Linked DNA regions of Homo sapiens. The protein of the gene in region 2 interacts with the protein of the main gene of each other region in a biochemical or structural test. Each region holds a gene or a part of one and is shown on either strand. Other genes may lie near its edges.

Region 1 (2,801 bases), on a different chromosome or scaffold from region 2:
AAAGTAAATCAGGAAAACAACATCAAAAAGGAACTACTTTGATATTTTTGAGGCTAAATGGAAACATTAATAAAGGAAGTTGGACTTATAGAAACATTGTTGTTATTGAATATTTGCTGCAATAAGCAAGACAAGGTGTAATAATAAGAAAAAGCTGGATCAGCAAGGTTGACAAGACAAGGTTGCAAATTATAATTATTGTTTATACAACTGTTCACTGAAGGGCATAGACCAGCGCCATAGAGGCTAAGAAGAATGTACTCTGTAAAAGAATGACTGGCTCTTCAGGATTTCTACAACTTACACCTGTTCCTGTTCTCCAGAACAATGTTTACTAATGCTTACTATCTCTAATCTGGTTTCCATGATCTATCCATACTGAGAAAGGAGGGTTTGGATAAGTAAATAAAATACTATCATAATCAGAGAGATATAACTTCTCCTGTGTTTTAATAAAATGGCATTCTGCTTCCTACCATCTATATTGACAAATTTACTAAAGTCATATCAAACCTAGAGAGCTGACAAGCCAGGCCCTGGCTGGACCAGATCACATCATACATACCAATTCTTGAGGCCCCTGTGAATAGCATAATTACATTGCTTATAAAAAAAAAAACTTGAAATACCATTTCTTTGTTATTCTGCAATTTTGCCTCTAAATCAGCACCTCAAAAATTAGGGCCATCAGTCCTAAATGGCAGTTACCTATAAAGGAATTCCCATAACTTTGCATACCCACAGAGAATGATCTCCATTATACGTGTGTATTTTCATGGTCATTTGGAGACACCAGGCCAGCTCCAGCAACACTGCACAAGTTTTAATGAGTTCACTGATGGACGGGCAGACATAGAGTCTCTGGGGCCTTGTTTAAAGATGTACTGGAAAACCAGTCCTGGAACTTCTGTCATTGGAGAAAGGTGGAGGAGATCAGCTCTGATATGCTGCTATCTCTCTTGTCTAATCCAGTAGAAGAAAAAAAATGCTTCAAGACAGGGCCAGGAATTGGGGTCAGGACAGAATCTAGGGAGTCATCAGAGTTTTGTCTTCTTGGTCTCTAGTTTGATCATGTTCCCCTGGATGTGAGGAATGTGCTTATCTGCTGGACCCCGCATATCCTCTGTCTTTACAGGAACATAGTAGTAGCCCATGATGGAGAAGATCAGGCAGATCACCAGCAGGAGGCAGGAAAACAAAATGAATTCGGCCCACTGCAGGGGGAAATAAATATGAGAAGAATATGGAGAAACCTGAAACTAAAGAGATCTTTACAGGATGAGGAGTGGGGAGCAGACTGACCTGGGATCACCAGTTTAACCAGACTTTTGCTGGACAAAGACTGGGTTCACTGGCCTCTCCTCACATAGGTATATTGTAGTCATTATTGCCACTTACATATGTCTATTTTCCTGGTAAAGTCTGTATATCTAACCCATTTCATGTCACAGCACTGAATGGGGAATGTGGGAAGCAGAGAGATGGGGGAAAGGGAGAAGAGAAAGCTGGAGGAAAAACTTGAGTAGAAATGAATCCTGCTTCCCTCAGATCCATACCTGTACCAGGCCACTGAACTGTGCCACAACAAGCACGATGATATTCCCAACTGCAATTGTCAATAGCCAAGCTGCCTGGAGCACAGATTTCATGCTAGAGGGAGCCTGGGGATGACACAAGTTTGAAAGTAAACAAACCCCCTTCACTGCCCTCATGCCCCATGCATCCAGGAAACTTCTCCCACAAAAGCTTCCAAGTTAGAACTTCTCTTATTAAGTTCAGCTATCACATTGATTCAGAGGGTGTTAATAATGTAAACAGTAAGAATAAGATGAAGCTCCTAACTGAATATATTTAAACTCATTATGTCATATAATCTTCATTACAATCCTAAGAGATAAGTTCTATTCGTATTCTTATACATTTAAAAAATAGTATTACAGACTGGGCGCAGTAGCTCAAGCCTGTAATCCTAGCACTTTGGGAGGCCAAGGTGGGCAGATCATCCAAGGTCAGGAGTTAGAGATCAGCCTGGCCAACATGGTGAAACCCTGTCTCTACTAAAAATACAAAAATTAGCCAGGAATGGTGGTGTGCGCCTATAATCCCAGCTACTCAAGAGGCTGAGGCAGGAGAATCGCTTGAGCCGGGGAGGCAGATGGAGTCTCGCTCTGTCGCTCAGGCTGGAATGCAGTGAGCTGAGATCGCGCCACTGCACTCCAGCCTGGGCGACAGCATTACAGAGATAGTAATTTACTTGCTCAAGGTTACACAATAGGTCATGCAGCCAAAATTTGAACACGGGAAGTCTGACTCTGCAGCTCTTCATTTTAATCTTTAATCTCTTTCCTAGAACCCCAAAATCATAGACTCCCATGCTGTACTGTCATGACCTGGGGAGTTAAGATGTTCAGGTCATATATGTTCAGGGTCATAAATAAGGTACCCAAGGCCAAAAGAGATAACATACCTATTTAAGTCAGTGCTAGAATTAAAATTCATTGTCCTTCAAGCAATGCCTCAATTTCTACCTTCTATTTGCAAAAACTTACCTGAGAATAAGAAAACTCAAGACCTGTGACAGAGAACATGACCTCCCCAGCTGTAACCAGGGCATATTGTGGTAGCTGCCACGCAATGGACATTTTGTTGGCTGGAATGTCTTCAATCTTCCAGGCCTGAAGACCCTGATTGGTGTTCTTAGGGAAAGAGAAAATGGAAATGGACTTGTCAGTAGTCTCAAGTAAATATTTCTAACTACAGCATTCTACGATCTTATATCCATCCTTTTTGTATTTTCATTC
Region 2 (3,657 bases):
TTTTTTTTTTTTTTTTTTTTTTTGTAGAGATGGGTTTTGCCATGTTGCCCAGGCTGGTCTAGAATTCCTGAGCTCAAGCGATCCACCTGCCTCAGCCTCCCAAAGTGCTGGGATTACAGGTGTAAGCCACTGTGCCTGGCATGATCTGTAACTTTTTACTTGAATGTTTCATTGTTAAAGAATGACAGTACAAATATTACACAGTTAGTCTAGCATAATATAAAGATTAAGGACTTCAGAGTCAAACTTTTGTTTTTCTTTATTCTTGTTCATTATGTAGGGAAAGTTATCTGCTTTCTGCAGGACTCACTCAGCTTTCTCGTTCATGTAAAAGAGACTATAATAGGATTATTCTGGGGATTGAAGGCTATAATTTATAGTAAATATATAAATATAGTAATTACTATTAGTACGAGACAGAATACCTTGATTAACACTATGTCTGTGTCTGGTACTCAGTGTAAGTTCTTACTCAAGACCTATTGAATAAGAAACAAAAAATCATTTTGTAGGAGTTTCTTGAATTAGTTAAGAAAAGATTTATATGATGTCCTTATGGCAGTGTACAAAAATCATTTTCTAGGGGTTTCTTGAATTAGTTAAGGAAAGGTTTGTATGATATCCTTATTTAATATCTGACTATTTAGATGTATTTGCTGAATTGCTGTGTGCAGTACAAAGTAGCAAATAACTTTAAAACTGAATACTTGTTCCAAAATTCTATAAATTTAATAATTAAGCATCCTCTTAAATTTTAGATCTATTAGCAAAAAGACTATGGTCAGTAGAAAGAGCTACTATAATGTTTAAAGGAACTGTAGAGAGGATTCACGAGGCTGATCAGACATGATGGCCTCACTACCTCTTTAGATTCTAGAATTTTATTATTTATTTTCTGGAAATCAGCTATCTCTTAGATCTCTCTACCCCTAAGCCTTCCCACAAAGAATTTGGAAATCCTTTTTAAATTACAATTACAATAACTTGACTTTCTCATTTTCATTTCCTGTTTTAGAGAGGAGAGATTGAATTTGAAGTAGTTTATGTGGCTCCTGAAGTGGATTCTGATGATGAAAACGTAGAGTATGAAGATGAGAGTGGACATCGTTACCGTTTGTACCTTGATGAGTTAGAAGGAGGTGGTAACCCTGGTGCTAGTTGCAAAGACACAAGTGGGGAAATCAAAGTATTACAAGGTAAAAATCACTCTAAAAATTATTATTAACATATTCATTATTATTAAATGTTTAAAATGTGAAGGCCTCAGAATTTCTTCAGTAAAACTGTTTTGTGAGGAAATCAAAGGAATGAAGAGCTTTCCCTTGTTTATTGTTTTATTGTATACTATGCTAACAGTTTATTTACCATATATGTTCTTCTATATTCATCTTGGACTGTTAAGACAAGTACATTACCAGTTACTCTACTGCAAGTGATCCTTGAAAAATAAATAAAATTTTTTCTAGACTCTGAAACAAAGACCAATATACTATTTTGAGTAGATCTATCTTGTAGACTACATTGTCTGTCTGTCTTGATGCAAATTCATCTCTCACAATGAATTTTAAGCTAATTATGAATAAGTATGAAGTATACTGTCACCTTATGATTGCTATTAGAATCAACTTATATTATCTTGGGGATGTTTGGTTTAGTTCCTTTGCTATCATTTAGACATATTTTAAGGAAAAACTCTAGCACTTCCTTTTACATAGAGCAGTGGTCCTCAAATTGTGATCTGTGGATCTCTGAGGGTCTCTGAGATATTTTAGCAGAGTTCATGAGGTCAAAGCTTTTCATAATAATACTAAGACATCATTTGTCTTTTTTTGCTATGTTGATATTTGCACTGATGGTATCTGGTTGATGCAAAAGCAATTGGGGTAAAACTGCTGGTGCCTTAGCACTAATCAAGGCAGTGTTGCTAATACTAGTAACTGTACTAGTAATCATTGTTTTCTTCCTTGCCATCCATTCATAGTAAAAGAAGAAGATACCAATTTTGCTTAAAAATATCTTTGATGAAATGGCAGTAACAGTTAATTTTTAAATATTGACCTTTGAGTACCTGTCTTTTTAATATTCTTTGTGATGAGATGGGAAGTATGCATAAAGCACTTACTCTGCACACTGAACAAAGATGCTGGTTTCAAGGGAAAGTACATAAGTGACTGAACTAGCCATTTTTCTTCATGGAAGACAATTTTTACTTGAATGAATGACTAACAAAGTATGGATTTTCGGACTATTTGGAAGCCATTTTCTTAAAAATGAACAAAGTCCATCACTTCAGGAAAGACAACTGATAATATTTATTGCCAGTGATAAAATGTGAGCTCTCAAGTGAAAGTTAGAACTTTGTAAAACATACGTTGATCACCATGAGCTTGACAGCTTCCTAACACTTAAGCTTTTCTGATGAGATTGATGATGATATTAATGAATGTGATTTTTTGATACAGTAAAGTGAAATGTGTCAACTTTTGGAATTGCTACATAACTTCATGGTCCAATATTTTTCAAATCACCAGTAAATGAAGTTATAAAATTTTGCATGGGAAAAGATCCATTCAAAATGCAAGATAGGCAAATGGATTTTAATATAACAGAGTGTGAAAAGTTCACTGATAAGGTTTCAAATTCCACATTGTCAAATTTTTGTATAATATCAGAGAACAATACTGACAGTTATCTGAAAAGGCTGTTAAAATACTCTTCCATTTAGCAACTACATATCTGTGTGAGGCTGAACTTTCTTCATATACTTGTAATAGATTGAATGGAAGCAGATATATGAAAATACAGCTATCATCTACAAAGCCATTGAAGAGATTTGTAAAATTGTAAAATAATGCTACTCTTCTAACTAGAATTTTTTTGTTTGGAACATAGAGTTATTTGTCATTAGACAAATGTTATTTATATTAACCTTCTGGATTTATTGTCATTTTTAACAAAGAAATGAATTTTTTTTTAGATTTTTCAATTTTACCTACTAATATGGGAAACATCAGTAGCTATAATCCACATAAACAGAAGCTTCTTGGAGTCCTCAATGCTTAGTATAAAGGCCTCCTGAGACCAAAATGTTGAACTCCTGGCATGGAGTTTTATGGTGAACTGATAAACTGTTGCACTTTTGATAAACTTGTGTGTTGTAAACTGTCTGCACAAAGATAGCAGTAGCAGTTACTGTTTTCACTGTGCATCTTGAGCAAAACTATTGTGGCAGTATGTCAAAACCTTAATTGTTGGGCTGCTCTCCATATGGTTTCATTGTATTTCACACTTGCTGTTTTCTGTCGGGATTAGAAAGCCTGTCTCTTCCTTTTTTTTGTAACTGAGGCTAGAAGTCTTCTCTGTCACATATGCAAATTGCAGACACTTAAAATGTGACTCAACTAAAAATTTGTGTGTATATATCTTTTAACTGACTCACTTAAAAAAATGTATCTATTGGTTATTGTTTCACACGTCTATACTTTATAGATATATATATCACCTAAATAGGTGATATAGTCAACACTTATTTATTTATAAGCCTATTATTTATTTTATAGATGATCAGAATTCGTTTTAAGTTTTAGCTAGACATCATCTTGCCAACAAATTACATTTTAAGCAATTAACTAGTATATGCCTCAGTTAACTGAAGTT

The links.
Region 1: the proteins of GOPC (region 2) and SLC15A2 interact in a test that uses a peptide from one of them, tested with the Homo sapiens proteins (one large-scale study listed by IntAct).

What each region holds. Positions count from the first base shown.
Region 1 is NC_000003.12:121,939,244-121,942,044, reverse strand, and holds part of SLC15A2 (solute carrier family 15 member 2), read right to left. Parts: intron 2,697-2,801; coding exon 2,550-2,696; intron 1,662-2,549; coding exon 1,557-1,661; intron 1,215-1,556; coding exon 1,038-1,214; 3' UTR 1-1,037. UniProt on the Homo sapiens protein: Proton-coupled amino-acid transporter that transports oligopeptides of 2 to 4 amino acids with a preference for dipeptides. Transports neutral and anionic dipeptides with a proton to peptide stoichiometry of 2:1 or 3:1.
Region 2 is NC_000006.12:117,564,393-117,568,049, reverse strand, and holds part of GOPC (Golgi-associated PDZ and coiled-coil motif-containing protein), read left to right. Parts: intron 1-1,015; coding exon 1,016-1,196; intron 1,197-3,657.